7 linked regions of the Homo sapiens genome follow. The protein of the gene in region 6 purifies or fractionates together with the protein of the main gene of each other region. This does not show direct contact. Each region holds a gene or a part of one and is shown on either strand. Other genes may lie near its edges. The genes, in order: CRAT, TARS2, LARS2, PRORP, NDUFAF5, CBR4 and GATB.

Region 1 (3,500 bases), on a different chromosome or scaffold from region 6:
TGTACCTCTCTGGGATGAGGAGACCCCCCACCTCGCCGGCCCTCCAGGGCATTCACCAAGTGCAGGGTGTGGGTTCAGAGCTTCGAACTCAACAGGACCCTGCAGGCCCACAGCACTCCTCGAGGCAGGGCCCAACACCTGGCCCACTTTAGACACAGGAAACCGAAGCCCAGGGGTCACATGGGAGCTGGTGTGGCAGCCGGGGAACCCACACAGGTGGTCTGACTTTGGGGTCAATGCCCCTGAGCAAGACATGCTTTGGAGGACTGCTGGTACTTGGGGGCACAGGGGGTGTGGAGGCGGGTGGGCTTCTCAGCCAGAGGACTTGGACTCTAATCCTAACTTGCTATTTAGCTGAGAGAAACTACCCTAACCATGAGGTGTCCTCAACTAGGACATGGGGCCCACATTGCCTGCTCCACGTTGAGAGGATGCAGCGGGAAACATGTCTGCCCATGGCTGTGCGGGGCCCAGCATGCCGGGGGAATGTTGGGAAAAGGACTTGTGGGGTGCCTGTATAAACTGGCCATAAAAATAGGGGACAATAAGTTGTGGAAAGCCAGAAGAGGCCACGGAGGAGGAAAGCCTACTAATTGCCATCATGTTCCCATGCTCAGAGCGAGACCCGCTCTCCTATCTGTAAACACTGTGTTCAAGGAGAAAGACACTCCTTTGAAACACTGGGAAGTGGACAGATGTGCAGGCTCCTAGTTAAGCCCGCTCCCACCAGCTACTCTCCGATAAGTTAAAGACACGCTGTTTGAGCACAAAGGAGATTCATTTAAACTGCTATTGCTATAGATTATGCCTCCTATGAGGCACTGCCTCCCTTTCACTGTTTCGCCCTGAACATGTGCTTCTTAGAGCTAAGTGACTGCACTCAATAGTGTGGAGACCAGAACTCTGCGCCTTTTGCAGCCTCCATTTTGCAACTGGCCCCTGGCTCCCACCTTCATGAACTCTTAACCTGTCTCTTCTCATTCCTTTGTTGCCAGCAGACTTCGGGTACCCTACAGGTGGAGTTGAGGCTGGTCCCCAACAGGGGAAGAGGCCTGGGTGTGCAGCCCCAGCACGGCCCCCAAGAGGCACCTTTGATGAGGGTGTTGTATGCCTTGGCCCAGGAGTTGCGGTGGTTGGAGGTGAGGATGCCCACAGGCTCCTTGTTGGTCTGTAGGGATGAGTTCCAGATCTTCTCCAGCTGCACAAAGATCTGATCCGCAGTGAGGGGTGTCCCGTCACTGTGGTACACATCCAGCTCAAAAAACTGTTGGGGCACAGGCAGGTAAGAGGAGGGAGCTGAGTGGGGACCTCAGGCTGAGAGCAGCCACCTCCCCACACCTGCCTCCTCCTGGCCTTGGCCTTGGAGGGGATGGAGTCAGGCCAAGGGTGAGAGGGGGAGGAGGTCCTTGGATCACCCTTCTGGGCTGGGCAGGCCCACGGCCCCTCCTGGCCTCCCTGGGCCCCCAATGGAGAAGCCAGGGGCGCCCATTCCTGGGGCACGTGGGCACGTGTGCTGGGGAACCCCAGTGGGGAAGCCGACTGCGGCCGTCCGGCTGTACTCCTGCAGCAGGGCCGGGGCTTGTAGGTGTGGGTGGGGGCCACCCACCTGGTAGTTGTGTACCACGGTGATGTGCGTGGGAGGCTTCTTGGTCTTGCTGAAGTTGCTGACTGTGTCCTGCTTGGGGCCCGGCACTCGGCAGGAGGACAAGATCTGATAGTACTGGTTCATGCACAGTGGCTTCCCCCCCAGGTACTCCACGGGCAGGGTCTCGCTATGGGGTAGAGGGGCAGTGAGGCCACCACTGGGCAAGTGAATGGGGAGGAGGGCAGGGTAGACAGGGACCTGCTAGGTACTGCTGGGGGCTCACACAGTGTCCCTGCTCCCACTCCCAGATGAGCAGGACACCTCAGGGCTGTGCTGTGGGCAGGGGGCTCGCTTTCTGCCCCAGATGGGCCCTGTTCAGAAGTCATCTAGAAACTCCCTCCTTTCCCCTCTCTGGGCTTCAGTTTGTCACAGGGGAGATGAAGCAGCGAATAAAACTCTGGGGTCCTCTTTAGTTGGGATGGGACAGGGTCACCCACCAAGAGGAGATTCCAGCAGCTGGAGCAGGGCCCAGGGCCCAAGCTGGCATGCCGGGCCAGGGCTGGGGTCAGAGGTGGCTGTGGTAATTAAGCAGGCCTGGGCAGGTGTGGGGCTGGGCAGGGGTGGGGATGCTCACTTGTCAATCATGACCTTGAAATCCAACACACCCTCAATGAGTTTGGCAGCAAATCTGGAAAGATTGATTAGAGATTAGAAGCTGCGTGGACACCCTGAGGGAGGCCCCGGGCTAGGGACACCTGCTTGGGGAGCGGGAGGTCTAGTCTTCCAGCCTCTCTCACCGCTTCCAGAAAGCCTGGGAGCGCAAGGGAGGGGCCTGCGAGTCCCAGCTTGCCAGCCTGTGTGTGCTTCTTCATAACCTCTAGAGGGAGCATGGTCGGGAGGGCTCGGGGAAGTGCTGGTGGCCAAGGGCCTAGTAGGACTTGGGTGCTGGCCCCCTGCAGCTGGAGTGTGGCTTGGTTAGGGGTCAGTGGGCTGGGTCTACCCACAAAGGGCCTGAGCTCCTGAACCTCAGCCTAGAATCTGGAGGGGGTGTCATCTGCTCTGAAGCATCGGTTCTGGAGGCCCCGGGCCCCTGGGGTGGTGTGATGGGAGAGCAGTGGCTCCGGTGTTCCCTCCACTAGGTCCCTTCCCCACTCTGGGCCTCTGTGTCCCCCAGGCCGCCTTCCTCCCAGGGCTGTCTGGCCCATGGCAACCACCCTCAATGCTTGGGGCCGCCCCTGGATCCCACCATGGGGACCAGTGGCTGGAGTTCCTGGGCCTGAACCCCGGCCCTTCCCAGGGTACCCTGGTCCCTTTAAGAGAAGCAGGTGGTGGCAGCCAGTGGCTGGTCCTTGGGCAGGAGATCCTTGTCACTGGTATTTTTATCTCTGGTAGGACTGGAATAGGGGCTGGGGCAGGTGACCTGGCTGAATGTGGAAAAGAGGACTGTGTACAGAGGTCACCCCTGTGGCTAGCTGAGAAGAGTGGAAAGGAGAGGTGAAGTGCTAAAACTGGGGTCGGGGAGAAGCCTCAGGTATGGAGGAGGATGGGGCCTCTGCGAAGATGTGGTGGTTAACAGCCATGAGGCTTTAGAGCTGGAGAGACCCTGCTTCCTGAATGGGGTCTTGGGCAGCTCCCTTCCCTGCTCCGAGCCTCAATTTCCCCATTTGTAAAATAGGGAGGATGCTCCCTACTTCATAAGGCTGCTTGTGGGGCAGAAAGATAAACAGGGTCGGGGCCCCTCCAAGCGGCTGGGCGAAGTGAACTCGAGGGGCCCGGCTGCCTCCTGGCCCCCAAACCCCAGCCACTCACCGGAGCTGACCCTGCAGGTCCACGAAGTCCTGCTTGGGTAGCATCACGCCTGGGCTCGAGTAGATGACCACAGGCTGGCGGTACTGGAGGTAGGCGGTCTTGAGCC
Region 2 (3,500 bases), on a different chromosome or scaffold from region 6:
AAATCTCAGGGGCAGTTGGAAGTCAAGCTGAATTGTCCCACACTGATGTGGCCGGCCCAGGGCATCGTGGAGGTGCACGTCAATCTACAGGAAACAGATGGGAAGGCACGAGATAAGCCAGAAGCACTATCCAGAACCACTATCCTCCATTACCTGTGCCATCCCACCCTTTAACCTACCCTCATCCCGGGCTACTACCTTCATCATGTCACCTAGCTCTATCATACGCTACCCCTCCAGTTCACTCTACTCAACTCACTCTGGCAGTAGTTCTCAGCAGCTCTCTCCATCTAATAATGGTGTTATAATATTACCTGATGTCCACACCCTGGCCTCTCAATTCCTTGAGCTCCTCATCTCAGAGATCTTCACCACCACCCATCTATGGCTACACCCTTTATCCTGTCATCTCCCCCAATGGCTGTACCTCTGAAACTGTCCATCAGACACCCTACTCTGATTACTGTCTCTTGGTCAGCCAGCTCTGAGAATTATTCCTTTTTTTTTTTTTTTTTTGAGACAGAGTCTCACTCTGTCACCCTGACAGGAGTGCAGTGGCACGATTTCAGCTCACTGCAGCCTCCGCCTCCCGGGTTCAAGCGACTCTCCTGCCTCAGCCTCCTGAGTAGCTGGGACTACAGGTACATGCCACCACGCCCAGCTAACATATATATATGTATGTGTGTGTATATGTGTGTGTGTGTGTGTGTATATATACACACACATATATATACACATATATACACACATATATACACACATATATACACACATATATACACACACATATATACACACACATATATATACACACATACACACACACACACACATATATATACACACACACACACACACACACACACACACACATATGTGTATTTTTTTTTTTCAGTAGGGATGGGGTTTCACCATGTTGGCAAGGCTGGTCTCAAACTCCTGATCTCAAGTGATCTGCCCACTTCGGCCTCCCAAAGTGCTGGGATTATGGGTGTGAGCCACCACACCCGGCCATGACAATTATTCCTATTAATGGCACTTCAACCCACCGGTTCTTTAACTCCTCTTTTTCTCTCCCATCCTCAGGCCCCTCCCACCTTTGTTTCTTATCCCATGAAGCTGTACCATTTTCCCTAGTTCCCTTTGTACCATTCATTGTTCTTCTGCACCTTAGCCTCCTACATCTTTGGCCCTGCAAGAGAACTGCTCAGTGCTGCCCAATATGTCACAAACCACACAGATGCAAATGCAGAGATTGATGCCACCATGGAAGTCAGTATTTCGAGATTCAGCTGGTCCCTGTCTGCTGCCAGCAATCCTTTGGATTGCCCTAATAAGCTCTATGCTCTGTTCTCCTCAGGGATGTTCCAGTTTTTTGCTCTCTCTTTTTATAGCAGTATCTGAGCCAGCAACTTATTAGACTGATTCAACATAATACACACTTTATGACTGTTATATCTGTAACCTTAAGCACATTGTTTAACCTCTCTCAATTTTTTTCTTAGTAATAAAGATATTTTATTTGCCTACTGTTATTGCTGAAATAAATCAGAAGACACACTTTCATTACTGTTAATATTTTAATTTACTAACTACTTAGTGAAGCAGGTAAATAAATACCATATGCTGGAATAAACACTTGGGACATAAAAATGAGAATACACATGTTACCTGAATAAAAGACCCCAACACAGTCAACAGCAACTTTGAGTACTCAAAAGATTTTAGCCAGGCAAGGCACATGGCCCACTCCTGTAATCCCAGCACTTTGGGAGGCCGAGGTAGGTGGACCACCTGAGGTCAGGAGTTCGAGACCAGCCTGGCCAACACGGTGAAATGCCGTCTACTAAAAAAGGGAATACAAAAATTAGCTGGTGTGGTAGCGGGTGCCTGTAATCCCAGCTACTGGGGAGGCTGAGGCAGGAGAATCGCTTGAACCCAGGAGGTGGAGGTTGTGGTGAGCCGAGATTGTGCCACTCCACTCCAGCCTGGCGACAGAGTAAAACTCCGCCTCAAAAAAAAAAAAAAAAAAATTAGCTGGGCGTGGTGGTGCACACCTGTCCCAGATACTCGGGAGGCTGAGGCAAGAGAATCGCTTGAACCTGGGAGGTGGAGGTTGCAGTGAGCCAAGATCCGCCAGTGCACTTCAGTCTGGCAACAGAGCAAGAGTCTGTCTCGGGGAAAAAAACAAAAACGAAAAAAACGCTGGGCAAGATGGCTCATGCCTGTAATAATCCCACCACTTTGGGAAGCCAAGGCGAGCAGATCACCTGAGGTTGGGAGTTCAAGACCAGCCTGGCCAACATGGTGAAATCCCATCTCTACTAAAAATACAAAAATTAGCCGGGCGTGGTGGTACATGCCTGTAATCCCAGCTACTCGGGAGGCTGGGGCAGGAGAATCGCTTGAACCTGGCAGGCAGAGGTTGCAGTGAGCCGAGATTGCGCCACTGCACTCCAACCTGGGCGACAGAGCAAAATTTGATCTCAAAAAAATATATAAAAATAAATAAATAAAACAAAACAAACAAAAAAAAGATTTTAGCTATATAACAGTTCTTGAGTAATTTCCTTTCTCTATCTTTTTATTTATTTATTTTATTGAGACAGGGTTTTGTTCTGTTACCCAAGCTGGAGTGTGGTGCCTTGATCATAGCTCATGCAGCCTCAAAATCCTGGGCTCAAGTGATCCTCCCACCTCAGCCTCTTGAGTAGCTGGGACTACAGGTGCCCACCATCACATCCAGCTAATTTTAAAATTTGTTTTAAATTTTTTGTAGAGACGGTCGGGCGCAGTGGCTCATGCCTGTAATCCCAGCACTTTGGTAGGCCAAGGCGGGCAGATCATGAGGTCAGCAGATCGAGACCATCCTGGCTAACACGGTGAAACCCCATATCTACTAAAAAAAAAAAAAAAGAAAAAAATTAGCCAGGCATGGTGATGGTGATGGGTGCCTGCCTATAGTCCCAGCTACTCGGGAGGCTGAGACAGGAGAATGGCGTGAATCCAGGAGGCGGAGCTTGCAGTGAGCCGAGATCGAGCCACTGCACTCCAGCCTGGGCAGCAGAGCGAGACATAGTCTCAATAAAAAAAAAAAAAAAAAAAAAAAAAAAAAATTTTTTTTTGTAGAGACGAGGTCTTATTATGATGCCCTGTTACTATGTTGCCCAGGCTGGTATCAAACTCCTGGATTCAAGTGATCATCTCAGCTCAGCCTCCCTAAGTGCTGGGATTACAAGAGGGGGCCACTGCACACAGCCTTTTCTTCATATCTTCAGCCCCCTCACTGACAACTCTCCTCTTCTCCACTCTCATTTCAGCAAATGATCCTGCCTCATGAAGAATTCAGATAATTGATACCATGGGATGGGAAGAGCCTCAACTTCCTGTTACCATGCCTACAAACTTCCTTGCATCTACCTTCAGCCTTTCCTTCCACCCTGGATACAATGGCAATGGTGATCCCTTCTATGAAGGCTTCTCAATCCTACCTTAAACCT
Region 3 (3,500 bases), on a different chromosome or scaffold from region 6:
AGGGTTCTAGGGGCTGAAATTCAAGCAGGCAGTCAGGCCTGCTTTGATGCCTAGATTAGGAATAATTGGTGAAGAGTGCTGAATTACAGTGTAAGTTTAGACCTATAACTTAATTTCCACCTGTACAGTGGTATTAAACATGAGTTTTTATCTTAAAAAGACCACGCAGGTCATAATATGTGGATACTGGGGGGCTGAGTCACGAGAAGGGATTAAGATGGTAACATCAACACCCACATTAGTCTGGGCACATTATTCAAAGCAGGGAAGTGTCTTTCCTTTTGGTAGGGGTGACCATGTGGATGAAGTACTACCATTCAGAGTACAGGACAGAGAGGTTGCTGAGTATAGATGCCAAATGTTGGACCCTATATCTGAGGACATCTGAGTCCCGAATGATGTTCAAAAAGAGGCTTCGACAAATTCTAGTTAGTAGTAACTGGTCAAAAAAGGACTCTGCCACGTACCTGCCCAGATCTCTGAGGTTACATGAGGGGCCAGTGGAGCAGCCATTACCATCAGGGCACACAAAGCATCCTCAAACTCGGGGCTGTGGAGAATGACGCTCTGAGAGGCTTGCTAAGGAAGAGGAAAAAAAAGTAAGAAGACTGAGGTGTAAAAATAAGCACGGGTAAGAAAGACCATTAATGTATCTGAAGTCCAGAGACACAAGCTGGTAGGAAGAAACCCCCTTTGCCATCCATTTCTGCTTGGGACAATGAACTTCCCCTACTTAATGATAGCACTGAGATAAACTACAGCAAGCCAGGTGTGGTAGCTGACACTTATACTCCCACTACTTTGGGAGGCCAAGAATTTGAGACCAGCCTGGGCACTATAGTGAGACCTCATCTCTATGAAAAATTAAAAAATAAAAAAAAATTAGCCAGGCACAGTTGCACACACCTATAGTCCCAGTTACTTAGGAGGCTGAAGTGGGAGGATCACTTAAGACCAGGAGGTCAAGGCTGCAGTGAGCTATGACTGCACCACTGCACTGAAGCTTGGGCAACAGTGAGACCCTATCTTTAAAAAAAAAAAAAAGCTCCAGCAGCAGCAACAACAAATACATGATGTTAACTTATTTAGTCCTCACCACTCTTTGAGGGTGGTATTCTTACCCCATTGGACAGATGAAGCAGCTAAGGATCAGCAAGGGAGGGCAATCTGCCCCCAGGCACACTGTAGCCAAACTCTTACCCACTCTGCTAGGTTTCCTCTGTGCTGCAGGTCCACAGAGAAATGCACTGAGACCTGCTCAAAGGTGTTAAACTGTGAAACACCTAGGGCAGGGGGGCCTCTATACCCTACTTAGGGACCCCTATTCTCTGAAATACCTTTGGTCAATTCCGGCAAACATAGTTGTGTTTAGCTCTGTGTGTTATTATTAAGGACTTCCCAAATTCCGGAATGGAAAGACAGAAATTCATTACAGTTTCATTTCAGTGTCTTGCTTTATTTTTTCTGATTAAAAAACTAACACACACTCAGCACAGAATATACAGGAAATGAAAAACTACTCATAATTATACAACCTAGAAAAAAAGGTATATTTTATCCTTGTCTCCAAAAATGCAAAAATGTGTATATAAATGCTTATTACACATGTAACATTTTCAGGATTGGTATTCTTGCCATATGAACACTTCCTTTTTTTTAATTTTAAAAATTAATTTTTTTTTTAAATAGAGATGGGGTATCTCACTATATTGCTCAGGCTGGTCTCGAAATCCTGGGCTCAAGCCATCTGCCTGCCCTGGCCTCCCAAAATGCTAGGATTACATGTGTGAACCACTGCACCCAGCTCATATGAACACTTTTGTATCTTTTTTTTTTGAGACAGAGTCTCTCTCTGTTGCCCAGGCTGGAGTGCAGTGGTGTGATCTCAGCTCACTGCAACCTCTGCCTACAGGTTTAAGCAATCCTCCTGCCTCAGCCTCCTGAGTGCCTGGGACTACAGGTGCACAGGTGTGCACCACCACACCCTGGCTGATTTTTTGTATTTTTAGTAGAGACAGGGTTTCACCATGTTGAGCAGGTTGGTGTTGAACTCCTGACCTCAAGCGATCTATCTGCCTTGACCTCCCGCAGTGCTGGGATTACAGGCGTGAGCCACTGTGCCTGGCCTTGTGTCATGTGTTTTTACTTAACATTATATCATAAACAGTTTCTGATATTAAGTATTCTTCAAGACATGAGGTTAATGGTGGTGGCACATTCCTTTCTTATTGATATGACATAAGTCATTTCACAATTCCCCCATCAGAGGACACTGGGGTTCCGAGTCTCTGTGATTATAAATTATCTGCAGTGAACACTCCTGGATCAGAGGATATAACACAATCAACCTGATAGCCGAAGTGCTTCCTGGCAAGGTTACACCAACCACACCTATCACTGGCGTGTAAAAGTCTATTCTGCCATCTTTGCAATAGCATGGGGAATAATTATGCCTTTATTTTTATTTTTTTGAGAGAGAGTCTCGCTTTGTCACCCAGGCTAGAGTACAGTGGCACCAAACAGCTCACTGCAACCTCAAATTCCTGGGCTCAAGGGATCCTCCCGCCTCAGCCTCCTGAGTAGCTAGAACTACAGGTGCATGCCACCACACTTGGCTAATTTTTAAATTTTTTACAGATGAAGTCTTGTTATGTTGCCCAGGCTGGTCTCAAACTCCTGAGCTCAATCGATCCTGCTGCCTCGGCCTCCCAAAGTGCTGGAATTACAGGCATGAGCCACTGTGCCTGGCCCTGAATAGTTACGTTAAAGTATTCTCAGCAAATTTGACAGGTATTTAAAAAAAAACAAAAACAAAAACAAAAGCATCTTGTTTTAAATTTGCCTTTCATGATAATTAGAGAGGCAGACTTTTTTTTCTCCACAAATGTATTGGCTATTTCTATAACATTTTCTATGAGTTATTATCTTTTCATATGCTTTGACCATTTTTGGTTAGGTATTTTCATATTAATATGTAAGAGTGCTTTACAAGGATATTAACCTTCTGTCTGACATGTTATAAATTTTTTTAACATACTGAAAATGTCAAGTTTTATGTAGTCAAATTTGAAATTTCTTCCATTGTTCTTTTTTATCTTTATTTTACTTTTTAAAAATTACCCTTTTAATTTTATTTTTAGAGACAGAGTCTCCTGCTCTGTTGCCCAGGATGGGTTCAAGCGATCCTCTCGCCTCAGCTTCCCGAGTAGCTACAGCTACAGCTGTATGCCACCATGCCAGGCTAATTATTTTATTTTTTTACTTTGTTTTTGAGGCGGAGTCTTGCTTTGTCGCCCAGGCTGAAGTGCAGTGGCGTGATCTTGGCTCACTGCATGCTCCGCCACCTGGGTTCACACCATTCTCCTGCCTCAGCCTCCTGAGTAGCTGGGACTACTGGTGCCTGCCACCACGCCTGGCTAATTTTTTGTATTTTTTAGTAGAGATGGGGTTTCACTGTGTTAGCCAGGATGGTCTTGATCTCCTGACCTCGTGATCCGCCT
Region 4 (3,500 bases), on a different chromosome or scaffold from region 6:
GTTGAGTGAGTTTCTTAATCCTGAGTTCTAGTTTGATTGCACTGTGGTCTGAGAGACAGTTTGTTATAATTTCTGTTCTTTTACATTTGCTGAGGAGTGCTTTACTTCCAACTATGTGGTCAATTTTGGAATAAATGCGATGTGGTGCTGAGAAGAATGTAAATTCTGTTGATTTGGGGTGGAGAGTTCTGTAGATGTCTATTAGGTCCGCTTGATGCCGAGCTGAGTTCAATTCCTGGATATCCTTGTTAACTTCTGTCTCGTTGATCTGTGTAATGTTGACAGTGGAGTGTTAAAGTCTCCCATTATTATTGTGTGGGTGTCTAAGTCTCTTTGTAAGTCTCTGAGGACTTGCTTTATGAATCTGGGTGCTCCTGTATTGGGTGCATATATATTTAGGATAGTTAGCTCTTCTTGTTGAATTGATCCCTTTACCATTATGTAATGGCCTTCTTTGTCTCTTTTGATCTTTGTTGGTTTAATGTCTGTTTTATCAGAGACTAGGATTGCAACCTCTGCCTTTTTTTGTTTTCCATTTGCTTGGTAGATCTTCCTCCATCCTTTTATTTTGAGCCTATGTGTGTCTCTGCATGTGAGATGGGTCTCCTGAATACAGCAACACTGATGGATCTTGACTCTTTATCCAGTTTGCCAGACTGTGTCTTTTAATTGGAGCATTTAGCCCATTTACATTTAAGGTTAATATTATGTGTGAATTTGATCATGTCATTGTGATGTTAGCTGGTTATTTTGCTCATTAGTTGATGCAGTTTCTTCCTAGCATCGATGGTCTTTACGTTTTGGCATGTTTTTGCAGTGGCTGGTACCGGTTGTATCTTTCCACGTTTAGTGCTTCCTTCAGAAGCTCTTTTAGGTCAGGCCTGGTGGTGACAAAATCTCTCAGGATTTGCTTGTCTGTAAAGCATTTTATTTCTCCTCCACTTATGAAGCTTAGTTTGGCTGGATAGGAAATTCTGGGTTGAGAATTCTTTTCTTTAAGAATGTTGAATATTGGCCCCCACTCTCTTCTGGCTTGTAGAGTTTCTGCCTAGAGATCCGCTGTTAGTCTGATGGGCTTCCCTTTCTGGGGAACCTGACCTTTCTCTCTAGCTGCCCTTAACATTTTTTCCTTCATTTCAACTTTAGTGAATCTGACAATTATGTATCTTGGAGTTGCTCTTCTTGAGGAGTATCTTTGTGGCATTCTCTGTATTTCCTGAATTTGAATGGTGGCCTGCCTGCTAGGTTGGGGAAGTTCTCCTGGATAATATCCTGCAGTGTTTTCCAACTTGGTTCCATTCTCCCTGTCACTTTCAGGTACACCAATCAGACATAGATTTGGTCTTTTCATATAGTCCCATATTTCTTGGAGGCTTTGTTCATTTCTTTTTCCTCTTTTTTCTCTAAACTTCTCATCTTGCTTCATTTCATTCATTTCATCTTCCATCACTGATACCCTTTCTTCCAGTTGATCGAGTCGGTTACTGAAGCTTGTGCATTCGTCACGTAGTTCTCGTGCCATGGTTGTCAGCTCCATCAGGTCATTTAAGGACTTCTCTACACTGGTTATTCTAGTTAGCCATTCATCTAATCTTTTTTAAAGGTTTTTAGCTTCTTTGCAATGGGTTCGAACTTCCTTCTTCAGCTTAGAGAAGTTTGATCGTCTGAAGCCTTCTTCTCTCAACTCATCAAAGTCATCGCAAAGCTTTGTTCTGTTGCTGGCGAGGAGCTGCGTTCCTTTGGAGGGGGAGAGGTGCTCTGATTTTTAGAATTTTCAGCTTCTCTGCTCTGTTTTTTCCCCATCTTTATGGTTTTATCTACCTTTGGTCTTTGATGATGTTGACAGACAGATGGGGTTTTGGTGTGGAAGTCCTTTCTGTTTGTTAATTTTCCTTCTGACAGTCAGGACCCTCAGCTGCAGGTCTGCTGGAGTTTGCTGGAGGTCCACTCCAGACCCTGTTTGCCTGGGTATCAGCAGCGGAGGCTGCAGAACAGCGAATATTGCTGAACAGCAAATATTGCTGCCTGATCGTTCCTCTAGAAGCTTCGTCTCAGGGGTACCCGGCCGTGTGAGGTGTCAGTCTGCCCCTACTTGGGCTACTCGGGGGTCAGGGACCCACTTGAGGAGGCAGTCTGTCCATTCTCAGATCTCAAACTCCGTGCTGGGAGAACCACTGCTCTCTTCAAAGCTCAGTTGAAAGTGCAGAAATCACCCATCTTCCGCATCGCTCACGCTGGGAGCCGTGGACTGGAGCTGTTCCTATTCGGCCATCTTGGAACCGCCAGTTCATTCTTATCATAACTATCATGTGGGTTAATTTAGAAGTCTAGATAGGCCAGCTGCAGATCAAATGAAATTACATATGAAAGTGCTTTGTGCAGTATAAAGCACTATGAGATTATAGAGTGTATTGGATAATTGTATGCAGTTGCATCCATTAGACTGGCTTTTTCAGATTTCATTTGTAGAGTATCTGTGTGTGTGTGTGTGTGTGTGTGTATTTTTAAGGGATGAATATTTTGAATTATCAAAACAATAATAAAGGTCACTGCAGTGTGTTTATAATAAAGTCCTTACTGAGTTCTTATTAATGTTTTGTCTGACATTTCTTTATTAGGAACTTAAGAGATTTGAGAACTTCATAAAATCTCGTCCTCCTTTTGATGTTGTCATTGATGGTCTCAATGTTGCCAAAATGTTTCCTAAAGTTCGTGAATCTCAACTTGTAAGTATAAGTTTTACTTTGTTATTCCACATCTCTAGAAATATTTATTATACCCATTTATGACCTTCTTGGGGCTCTTAGCTCCTCAGTTTTTCTTCCTCTAAAACTAAGGTCTTCAGGGTGCCACAGTGACCAACTGCATGCTCCCCTAAGATTTACTATTTTCATCACTAATAAGTCGCTCTTCAAGGCTGGGAGAAAACAATTAAAAGTGAGGAATTAAAAGAAAGATTGCAATACAGGGCCAGATTTTCCCGTTTCGTGTAACCTTTAGCTAACCTTCTCCTGGGTCTCTGCTTTCTCTTTGGGGTCGCTCTGTCATTTCCCTTTGGGTCATATCCTTATATTTGAAAATTATCAATATACAATATCAAGAGATATTAATCACTCATTACTCACATTTGTTTTTTCCAAACATAGTATGTTCATAAATTAACCTAAGCAGTTTTTTTTTCTATATGGTAGCCATTTGTTAATTTATAAATGCCCTACTAGTTTCTAATAAGACTATCATTTTTCATAGCTGCAATTAACAGTTACTTTAATCTCTATTTTGTAGATTAAAAAATTGAGGCTAATTTTGTATAGTAAATCTATAGAAAACAGTCATAACATCAAAATTAGATTGTAGAGAGCTCCTGGGTTTCAGACTTGTGGCTCTTATCATTGGCAATCTATAGCCATTCATCTGTAATTAAACTATTTCTTAAAAATTGCTGCCGCTGGCTGGGCACAGTGGCTCATGCCTGTAATCCCCAGCACTTTGGGAGGCCA
Region 5 (3,500 bases), on a different chromosome or scaffold from region 6:
TAGTTGAATGAACATAAGTTTTCTTACCTGCTCAAGTGCTCTAGGAAGGTCATTCACCCAATGCAAACTAAAATATGAGAATACAGATTTGTTTTAGCTTAACTGGCACAATTAATTAGTAAAATTATCACCAGGTTAATGATAACCCATAAAAAGGTGTTAATTTTGAAGTTTAAAACTGCATATCCAAATCCACTGATCGTTTTCATACAGGTTTTAAAATTATAAATATTCCTAGAGGAAAACCTGCCTTGTGTCACACCAGAAAATTCCCCATGTCAATATATCACTTTGCGTAACTGAAAGAATCTGATATGATTATTTTCTAATTATTCATCACTGAATTATGTAAAAGTCATTCCTACTTAGGCATTTTATCTAAACGGTGCTATTCTGAGACCTTATTTGCAAAAAGTAGTAAAAATGCTCAAAGAAGCTCATCAGTTAAATCAATTAAGCTACAGAAATATAGTATTATTCTAAGTCAGACTTTCTTAGAAAAAAATTATCTGCAGATCTAAATTTTTTCAAGGCAAACAGTGTAACTCATCAAAAGTTTGAATCTGTGAGTTTTCCAATAATATCCCATTTTTTAAAAAATCAATTTTTAAGACTTTATTTTTAATTATTTTTGGAGCAGTTTTAGGTTTACAGCAAAATTAAGAGGAAAACCCAGAGATTTTTTTACATACTCCTATTCCCACACATGCACAGCCTCCCCCATTATCAATATCTCCAGAGTGTATATTTGTTACAACTGATGAAGCTATACTGATAAGTGATTATCCCCCAAGTCCATAGTTTACATTAAGGTTCACTTTTGGTGTTGTATATTCTAAGGGTTTGGATAAACGTGTAATGTCATATATCCAATATTATAATAGTATCATAGAGTAGCTTTACTGCCCTAAAAATCCTCTGTGCTCCACCTATTCATCCTTCCCCTACACAACCCCTGGCAATCACCAATCTTTTTCACTGTCTCCAGAGTTTGCTTTTTCCAGATTGTCACAGTTGGAATTACACACTATGTAGCCTTTTCAGATTAGCTTCTGTCATTCAGTAATACGCATTTAAGTTTCCTCCAAATATTTTAATGGCTTGACAGTTTCTTTTTAGTGCTGAATAATATTCTGTTGTTTGGATACAACAAAGTTTATCCATTCACCTACTGAAGGACATCTTGGCTGCTTCCAAATTTTGGCAATTATGAATAAGGCTACTATAAACATTTGTGTGCAGGTTTTTGCGTGGACGTAAGTTTTCATCTCCTTTGGGTAAACACCAAGGAGCATGCAATCGCTGGATCGTACGCTAAGAGTATGTTTAGTTTTGTAGGAAACAACCAACCTATCTTGCAAAGTGCCTGTACCATTTCGCATTCCCACCAATAATGAACTCCACATCCTTGTCGCATTTAGTGTTGTCAGTGTCCTGGATTTTGGCCATTCTAGTAGGTGTGTGGTACATCCATTTTTTAAGGTGATAAAAACAAACAAAAACCAGAGCTGTATACACTGAAACTTAATCTCTTAAATTTTTTCCTTTTTTGAGACAGAGTCTTGCTGTTGCCCAGGCTGGAGTGCAGTGGCGCGATCTTGGCTCACTGCAACCTCTGCCTCCCAGGTTCAAGTAATTCTCATGCCTCAGCCTCTCGAGCAGCTGGAATTACAGGCATGCGCCATGACATGCAGCTAATTTTTGTATTTTTAGTAAAGACAGGGTTTCACCACGTAGCCCAGGTTGGTCTTGAACTCCTGGCCTCAAGTGATCTGCCTGCCTCGGCCTCCCAAAGGGCTGGGATTATAGGCGTGAGCCACCGTGCCCGGGCCTTGAATTTTCTTTTGACCCTACTCTCACCTAGAGTGTAGTCATGCGTGACAGCGAAAGTCATATTCCCAGTCTCCTTAGAGTACGGTCACACTTTTCTGGTATAACTGCCTCCCCTTATGCTGAGTTCCAGGACAGAACTGAATGTCCATTTCAAACCATACTGTGTTAAGCTCATGTTTATCTTTCCTAATGCTTTTCGACAAGTATTAGATACTTTAAAAACTAAGGAGCTCATACTATAAACTCTATCATACTTATGGGAAAACAGAAAGCAACAGAATTAGTCACCTGCAAATAGCAAGCAGATGAGCTAACATAAAAACTCAGGTTCTGACTCCCTGCCCAGGGTTCTTTATAGACCAAGGCTCTGCATATTTTTCATTTCATGACAGAATGTGAGTAGTTTTCTAACTTTGTTCAGCACATCTAAAAAACCAGGGAAGGAATTACACACTCACGAAAGAAAACATCAAGGGTGACCAGCTTTCCCAGAACATAAGACTTTCAGGCCAAAAGTGGCAAAGTCCTGGGCACACCTTGATGACTGGTCACCCTAAAAACAGCTATCGAAAGAGTTGAACTGGACGTGGAGAGCCTGCTGAACTTCTGAAAGAAAATCTATTTGACTATAAGACAGGAGAAAGAAGATACCACAAAGATATTTTTTCTGTTAGACTGAGTTATTTGAGGACAGGATCCCTAATTCATTTTTGTATTCACCCAAAAATCTGGCTCAGTGCCTTGTATCCTATAACCTATTTGATATATACTTGCATTACATGTTTGTGTAACATATGTGGAGGAAGATAGTAGAAAACATAAAGGGAAAAGAGTAATCTTGAGAACTACATTCTGGTACAGAATTATTATTATTTTGAGACAGGGTCTTGCTTTGTCACCCACGCTAGAGTGCAGTGGCATGATCATGGCTCACTGCAGCCTCAACTTACCAGGCTCAAGTGATCCTCCTGCCTCAGCCTCCCAAGTAGCTGGGACTACAGGCATGCGCCACCTTGCCCAGCTAATTTTTTAATTTTTTGTAGAGATGGCATTTCATTATGTTGCCCAGGCTGGTCTCGAACTCCTGGGTTCAAGCAGTCCTGTTACTGCAGCCTCCCAAAGTGTTGGGATTGCTGGTGAGAGCCACTGTACCTGGCCAGAAGAATTAAGGCTAAAGGAAAACTAGCTGTCCTAGTTTGAGTTTGTCCAGAATGAGTTTGTCCAGAATTTGTCCAGAATGAGTTATGATTGTTGGGAGCAGGAGTTTGAAAGAATATATTCTATGCTCTCTGGTGGAGATAATATGATATAGTGCCTCAACTTTTTTTTCCCCCAACTTGCTAAACTCATCTGTGATAGAAGGGTTTTCTCCCCAATGTAACTTATTATTTTGGAATTGCTCTAACATTTGAATACAGGAGCCAATATGCTCTTTCAAACTCCTGCTCCCAACAAGAGCAATTCCAAAATATTAAGATGCACTGGGGAGAAAAACCTTCTATCACAGATGAACTTTAGGAAGTTCATGCATGCCACCACGCCCAGCTACCTTTTTTGTATTTTTAGTAAAGACAGGGTTTCAACATGTTGGCAAGGCTGGTTTCAAACTCCTGACCTCAAGAGATTCACTCGCCTCGGCCTCCCAAAGTGCTAGCATTACAGGCGTG
Region 6 (3,500 bases):
GCTTCTGGATTGTTTTTTCTTTTTCTTTCTCTCCCTACTCCCAGCAAATAGATGTATCTGAACCACAGTCACTTATCAAATATTCATAGATTTAGAATGTCTGAATGTAGCTAGTTGCTATGAGAAAAAAAAAAAAGAAAAGAAAAGAATTGAAATAAAGACACACTATAGACCAAAAGGGTTAATAGGATATTTTGATAAATCCCTGATACCTGCTGGCTCAACTTCAGTGCCAAAGAAAACACCAACTGTAAGGTCCAAGCTGGAGCCATTAGTGACCGGAAAGGGAAAGGTAGCAAAGGTCTACTTCAGCCCTCTCTTTCTTACAAAGGACCAGCAAACCAAAATAAACTGCCTTTTCTTATATAGGTGATTAATTCTTAAGTACCTACAGTAGGCTAGGACAAAGATTCCATGGCTAACTGGCAGAGGTAGATAAAAACACTTGTGTTACTCAAAAACCAAGTAAATACCTAATCAAAATTTCTAGCACACCAGCTAATTAGTGATCATATATTTTTGAGTTTTAGCACCTTTTTATTACCCTCTTCATTAATCCAGGCAATTTTATCAACTAGTACCCTGGCGAAAGGCAAATAATGGAAAAGTAAAAATTAGGAAAATGGGAGGTTCCAGATAGTTTAGACAGACCATAGTAGTAAAAGGACAAAACTATCTAAAGTTTGTGTAATGATATAAAGAAAATCTAAAAAGAATTTTTTTTTTAATTTTTATAGAGACAGGGTCTCAACAGGGTCTCGCTCTGTCACCTAGGCTGGAGTACAATGGCATGATCATAGCTCACTGCAACCTCCAACTCCTGGACTCCAGCAATCCTCCTGCTTCAGCCTCCCAAATAGCTGGGACTATAGGTGTGCACCACCACACCCAGCTAATTTTTTTTTTTTTTTTTCGGTACAGACAGCATCTTGCTATGTTGCTCAGGCTGATCTGGAACTCCTGGCCTCACAATACTCCTGCCTCAGCCTCCCACATGAGCTACCATACCTGGTAGGACATTATTTTTAAGCTCCCATTAGGTGGAAATCAAAAGACAAAGCTTTTAGTAACAGTTCTTCCATAAACTAGCTGTGTAACCTTAGGCAAGTCACTCTGAATCCCAGGTACAGTTTTCTAATCTACAAAAATGACTGGAAAAAATTATTTCTAAGACCCTCTCCACCTTAAGTTATTCCACTAGTGCAAAATTTAAAAATAAAGACTCTTATGGTTTGGATGTCTGTCCCCTCCAAATCTCATGTTGAAATGTGATTCCCAATGTTGGAGGTGGGCCTAGCGGGAGGTGTTTGGGTCATGGAGGCGGATTCCTCATGAATAGCTTGGTGCCCTCCACATGGTAAATAATGAGTTCTCACTGTTAGTTCATGCCAGAGCTGGTTGTTTAGAGCCTGCCACCTCCTCTCTCTCTTGCTCCTGCTATCCCCATATGACTTGGCTGCTACCTCTTTACCTTCCGCCATGACTGAAAAAAAGTTTCCTGGGCCTCACCAGAAGCTGAGCAGATGTTGGTGTCATGCTTGTACAGCCTGCAGGCCCGAGAGCCAAATAAGCCTCTTTTTTTTATGAATTACCTCAGACAGTCCTTTAGAGCAATGCAAACAGGCTAACACATAGACTTTATATAGAATATGAGGTACAAAAAATTTTTTTGAGTCCCCCAGTTCATTATTTGATTCTTTTCACAATCATTTTACAAACTATTCTACCCAGATGTCAATTACTAATGTTCCAAATAATGGCTTCCCTATAAAACAATAATCATAATCAAGTTATTTTAATAAAGTTTTCACTAACCTGGTGCAACTACATTCACTCTAATTTTCTTTCTTGCTACCTCTTTAGCAAGAGCACGTGAAAATCCAACTAATCCTCCTTTACTGGCACTGTAAACGGACTGGCCAGAGTTGCCTTTTAAGCCAACAATGCTTCCTAGGACAAAAAAAAAAAAAAAAAAAAAAAAAGCGTATTAAATTCAATTAATGGGGTTACTTGAAAATTTAGATAATTTATAGTAAACAAAAAGGTAAAACCCACTTCACCTTGTCCTTTGTTAAAATTAGAAATTCTAACCATTGTCATCAGTCATTTACGGAAGATTTAAGAGTCCAAGTCTGCTCCAGATACATACAGAAAATAGCATCTGAAAGCAGCTGATACAAAACTGCCAATGCAGGTGCTTGCGAATTGATTCACTACGTGAAGGGGATGCACTCTAATCTCTGAGTAGGTCAGATATGATGAAAATTCTGTGGTATTTATAAAGGCTTCCAGCAGGTAGAGGTTAAAGCCAGAAAAAGTCAGACAAAAGCTGACTAATTTTATGATTCTACAACACAGACATAAGGCAGAAAGCTCTCGTTTTCACCCTAAAAACTAGTTCATTTGAAGCTAAATCTCACTAAAATTGAATTACATGCATAACTCATTTTATTGTTCTGCTTTATTGTGCTTTGCAGATATTGCATTTTTTTTTTTTTTTTTTAACAAATTGAAGGCTTGTAGCAACCTTGCAACAAGCAATTCTATTAGCACTTTTCCAACACCATGGCTCACTGTGAGCAGTGCTCACTCTGTGTCTCTTTGTCACATTTTGGTAATTTTCATACCATCTTAAATTTTTTCATTATTATTACATCTGTTATAATGATCTGTGATCAGTGATTCTTGATGTTTACTGCTGTTGGGGTGCCACAAACAAAATATTACTGCTCACTGACAATGCATCTGGTCACCAAAGAGCTCTGATGGATATGTACAAGGAGATTAATGTTGTTTTCGTGCCTGTTAACACAATATCCTTTCTTCAGCTCATGGATCAAGGGATAATTCTGACTTTCAAGTCTTATTTAAGAAACATTTTATAAGTCTATAGCAGTCATAAATAGTAATTCCTCTTAGGAATCTGGGCAAAGTAAATTAAAAGCCTTCTGGAAAGGATTCACCGTTCTATATGCCATTCAGAACATTTGTGATTCATGGCAGGTCAAAATACCAACATTAACAGAAGTTTGAAAGAAGTTATTTTAACCCTCATGGATGACTTTGTGGGGTTCAAGACTTCAGTGGAGCAGAATTACAAGTGGAGCCTGAAGATGTGACTGAATTGCTGCAATCTTATGATAAAACAAATGGGTGAGGAGTTGCTTCTTATGTATGGATAAACAAAGTTGTTTCTCAAGATGGAATCTCTTCCTTGTGAAGATGTGAATACTGTTGAAAGAAATGACAAAGGATTTAGAATATCCTATAAACTTAGTTGATAAAGCAATAGCAGGGATTGAGAGGAGTGGCTCCAATTTTTAAAGATCTACTTGCATAAAATGCTATCAAACAGCATCACATGCTGCAGAGAAATCTCTCACGAAATGAAGAGTCAATCAATGTGGCAAATTTTGTCTTATTCTAAGACTTGGAACCAAATCAAATGTGCAACAATGACAGACTGGATTAAGAAAATGTGGCACATATACACCATGGAA
Region 7 (3,500 bases), about 17 Mb from region 6:
TGATGACAGGCCTGGCTCTGAACTGCCACATAAACAAGAAGTCCTTGTTTGACAGGAAGCACTACTTCTATGCAGACCTCCCTGTAAGTACACTTTGTGATCCACCCCACTGCAAGTTCTCAGAGCTGGGCCAGCCCTGCTGTGGGGGGTCGGAGCAAGGGAAAGGGGCTGTGCCTCTCATGTTTTCAGCCAGCACTGTGTCCATCCCAGCAGGAAGTTCGGCCCAGCCCTGATGCAGGCAGGTGCCCCTGATGGTTACTAGATCGGATGCAGTTGTCCTGATTGCTGACTTCTTGCTTACCTCATGCTTCTGGTGGCTCGCTCATAATTGCACAGGGAGTAGAAGCCAGTGTTTGCAGGCTCAGCCTGGCCGTGGTATTTGGTGCTAATTGCCTGTTAGTACAAAAGCTAAGGCTCTGGCTGATGCAACAGTAAATGCATACTGTAGTTCTGTCAGCAGAGCGAGAGCGAATCGCTTTTAAGTTGAAGTTCCCAATAATAGGGCTGTCTCCTTTGGAGACATTTCTGTCATCTCACAAGGAGCAAGTAAGTGGACAATAGTAAGCGGAAACATGAACCAGAAATCTGGACCAAGAACAGTAAACTGTTGGTCCAGTTACTTGGCTGAGCAGTAAACTCCATATTGACCCGCTTTTTTCTGAAAATTAAAAGGTTTTTTTCTTTAAGCCACACCATGTGAGTGAGAGCCAATTTTTCATACTATTGAACAGGAACAAAACTGAAATGTTGAATGGGTTTCCCAAAATAATGTTTTGTTTGGTCTGATTCAGAAAAACAACAGTGATGATGTTGCTTCACCTCTTTCTCCTTGAACTGAAGATTGGGGCGAGCTGTTTTTTAGTGGGTGAGGGCACGAGTAGAATTAAATAAAAAATACAAGTAAGACCTGCGTTCTCCAGTGGCTGCTGCTTTTCCCCTCTGGCCTCCAGCCTCTCAGCAAGTCTACTGTTTGGTAGGGCGGAAAGAATTAAACCGCCTTTCTTTATCTTTTAAGAGTGACAGACAGTTTGGTTGAGGTGGGAGATTTAGTAATAATATGACTAAAATGAGATGTTTTGGTCATCTGTGGCTTTCTGGTCTTTCTGGCCCAGATAGTTCAAATAATCCAGAGTTTCATGGGACATACTCATATAATAAAGCATTTGTTGTTTTTTCTGAAATTCAGATTTAACTGGGTGTCCTATATTTTATCCAACAACCCTACCCAGAGCTTAGTTTTACAAATTGAGACTTCCCGTCTCAGCATAGAAAACGGGTTAGCCTTTTGCAGGATTCTCAAAGTGTGGTCCCCAGGGCACTGACATCATCATCTCCTGGGAACTGGTAAGAAATATAAATCTTCAGGCCCCACCCTCGACCTACTGAATCGGAAACCTTTGAGGTCGGGCCAAGCAGTCTGTCTTTTGACAAGCACAGTAGTATTTCTGATGCAGTTAAAGTTCTTAAACTGGGGGCCTGCCAAGTGGTGAAAGACACGGATTTTGGAGCCTGACCATCTGAATTCAGACATTGACATTGATGCTCACTAGCTCTGTATGTGGCTGTGGGCAAGGTCTTAATCCCTCCACGCCTTGTTCCTCCTTCCTAGGGTTGTTGTGGAATTAACTGAGGGAACACAGTGAGAGCAGCACCTGGGACCTAGGAAGTGCCACAGATGCCTTTGCTTTTATTCTCTGTTCTTCTCCAATTCTCCTCATTGACCTGCTGTCTCTTTAGTGCGTATTGGTGCCTCTGTGCGTTTGCAAGTAATTCTTCCTTTCCACTTAGAAGCAGGTGAGGGATCCTTGCAGGATCCATCAGTGCTTTAGTACCATGTGCCTTCCATTAATGGAGGGGGAGTGTCACAGCATTTTCTGACTGGAGGAGCTAGGGAGGTTGGGTCAGGGAGGGCAGCTGCCATGATTGATTCCTTTAAAAAGCAGAAACAAAACAAGCTTAAACACACACTAGCAACTGCTGTTGGCCGTGTGGAGAGTAGATGGCAAAATGCTTAGCCAGCATTCCAAATAAGGAGGGTCTGCCAGGAGCCTGGTAATGAGATGCAGAGTTTAGGCTAATGAGCTGGATGGAAACAATAAATTCTTTTCTTAGGGGTCCCTGACAATGACATTATTGTTATTCCCCAATACAGCACTTTAATGAGGGCAATGGGATGAATTCGTGTTGTTTATTGCATCGTTATCAGGGGTGGAGGATTTGGGGAGGGTGAAGGGGTGATGGCAGGGGCAGAAGAGACCAGGCTCAATGATGGCTGCAATGCAGCAACTAATTTTTTTCTCCTTTTCCTTTTTTTCTTGTTGTTTTTGCTTTAAGTAGGCCTGTCGTTGTGTGACATTGTAAAAGGGATAGTAAACTGGATCCCAGCTTTTATGTGTGGACCAGTGACTATGTTTACCCTATGTTTGTGTGCAGGCAGGCTACCAAATTACCCAGCAGAGGCTCCCAATTGCTGTGAATGGGAGCTTGATATATGGCGTCTGTGCAGGGAAGAAGCAGAGTCAGGTGATCCCCAAGACGGTGAGGATCAAGCAGATCCAGTTGGAGCAAGACAGTGGCAAAAGCCTCCACGACAACCTGAGGTCTCAGACGCTCATTGATTTGAACAGGGCAGGTAGGCTTGGAGTGTTTTCATTATTTCTCCTTCCTACTTCAGTTCTTGGATAGCAGGGCCCTCTTTTCACCGCTAGAGTTTTCTTGAACAAATTGAGAAAGCAGTCACAGGAGCCTGATAGATGGAGACTAAAATATCAGCATTGGGATTGGCATAGCTGACTAGCGAACATGGCTTGAACTGTAATTATTAGGCTTGCTAATAACTCACCCTGAAGTTAGACAAACCTATCCACCTAGTCACAGACCCAGCAGCTGGATATTTTAAGCAGTCATTAAAAGAAGTGAAACATTTAAAAATCAAAACGTGGAGCCTAGGTGCCTACACGTGTAATGCTAGTGACTCAGGAGGCTGTGGGAGGATCACTGTACGCAGAGTTTGAGATCAGGCTGGGCAACATAGCGAGACCTACTTGCCAAAAAATTAACACCTAGGTGTGGTGCCATACACCTGTATCCCCAGCTATTCAGGAGGCTGAGGTGGGAGGATCACTTGAGCTCAAAAGTTCAGGGCTGCAGTGAGCTATGATCATGCCACTGCATTCCAGCCTGGGCAGCAGAGCAAGATGACGCCTCTTTAAAAAAAAAAAAAAAAAAAAGGTGGGAGGGAAGAGAAATGATTGAGAGGCTAGAACCACTCTGAGAGTCCTTCAGTAAGGCAGGGTTTTCCTGAAACTTAGGCCTAATTTTTCTGTTGGTGAAATTGGAGAGCTGCAGTGAGGCTGACTCTGCCCCTCTTTGGTAGGAGTGGGCCTTCTGGAGGTGGTCCTGGAGCCCGACATGTCCTGTGGAGAAGAGGCGGCAACAGCTGTCAGGGAGCTGCAGCTGATCCTTCAAGCCCTGGGGACCAGCCAGGCGAACATGGCAGG

What was found.
Region 1: the proteins of CBR4 (region 6) and CRAT purify together in Homo sapiens (affinity purification with mass spectrometry; one large-scale study listed by BioGRID and IntAct). This does not show direct contact.
Region 2: the proteins of CBR4 (region 6) and TARS2 purify together in Homo sapiens (affinity purification with mass spectrometry; one large-scale study listed by BioGRID and IntAct). This does not show direct contact.
Region 3: the proteins of CBR4 (region 6) and LARS2 purify together in Homo sapiens (affinity purification with mass spectrometry; one large-scale study listed by BioGRID and IntAct). This does not show direct contact.
Region 4: the proteins of CBR4 (region 6) and PRORP purify together in Homo sapiens (affinity purification with mass spectrometry; one large-scale study listed by BioGRID and IntAct). This does not show direct contact.
Region 5: the proteins of CBR4 (region 6) and NDUFAF5 purify together in Homo sapiens (affinity purification with mass spectrometry; one large-scale study listed by BioGRID and IntAct). This does not show direct contact.
Region 7: the proteins of CBR4 (region 6) and GATB purify together in Homo sapiens (affinity purification with mass spectrometry; one large-scale study listed by BioGRID and IntAct). This does not show direct contact.

Annotation. Positions count from the first base shown.
Region 1 is NC_000009.12:129,100,794-129,104,293, forward strand, and holds part of CRAT (carnitine O-acetyltransferase), read right to left. Parts: coding exon 3,395-3,500; intron 2,274-3,394; coding exon 2,220-2,273; intron 1,773-2,219; coding exon 1,607-1,772; intron 1,265-1,606; coding exon 1,090-1,264; intron 1-1,089. UniProt on the Homo sapiens protein: Catalyzes the reversible transfer of acyl groups from carnitine to coenzyme A (CoA) and regulates the acyl-CoA/CoA ratio. Also plays a crucial role in the transport of fatty acids for beta-oxidation.
Region 2 is NC_000001.11:150,500,919-150,504,418, reverse strand, and holds part of TARS2 (threonine--tRNA ligase, mitochondrial), read right to left. Parts: intron 85-3,500; coding exon 1-84. UniProt on the Homo sapiens protein: Catalyzes the attachment of threonine to tRNA(Thr) in a two-step reaction: threonine is first activated by ATP to form Thr-AMP and then transferred to the acceptor end of tRNA(Thr). Also edits incorrectly charged tRNA(Thr) via its editing domain.
Region 3 is NC_000003.12:45,521,076-45,524,575, reverse strand, and holds part of LARS2 (leucine--tRNA ligase, mitochondrial), read right to left. Parts: intron 580-3,500; coding exon 468-579; intron 1-467.
Region 4 is NC_000014.9:35,178,052-35,181,551, forward strand, and holds part of PRORP (mitochondrial ribonuclease P catalytic subunit isoform 1 precursor), read left to right. Parts: intron 1-2,618; coding exon 2,619-2,726; intron 2,727-3,500.
Region 5 is NC_000020.11:13,795,028-13,798,527, reverse strand, and holds part of NDUFAF5 (arginine-hydroxylase NDUFAF5, mitochondrial), read right to left. Parts: intron 68-3,500; coding exon 28-67; intron 1-27. UniProt on the Homo sapiens protein: Arginine hydroxylase that mediates hydroxylation of 'Arg-111' of NDUFS7 and is involved in the assembly of mitochondrial NADH:ubiquinone oxidoreductase complex (complex I, MT-ND1) at early stages. May also have methyltransferase activity.
Region 6 is NC_000004.12:169,000,256-169,003,755, forward strand, and holds part of CBR4 (3-oxoacyl-[acyl-carrier-protein] reductase), read right to left. Parts: intron 1,951-3,500; coding exon 1,816-1,950; intron 1-1,815. UniProt on the Homo sapiens protein: Component of the heterotetramer complex KAR (3-ketoacyl-[acyl carrier protein] reductase or 3-ketoacyl-[ACP] reductase) that forms part of the mitochondrial fatty acid synthase (mtFAS).
Region 7 is NC_000004.12:151,716,008-151,719,507, reverse strand, and holds part of GATB (glutamyl-tRNA(Gln) amidotransferase subunit B, mitochondrial isoform 1 precursor), read left to right. Parts: coding exon 1-83; intron 84-2,433; coding exon 2,434-2,632; intron 2,633-3,376; coding exon 3,377-3,499; intron 3,500-3,500. UniProt on the Homo sapiens protein: Allows the formation of correctly charged Gln-tRNA(Gln) through the transamidation of misacylated Glu-tRNA(Gln) in the mitochondria. The reaction takes place in the presence of glutamine and ATP through an activated gamma-phospho-Glu-tRNA(Gln).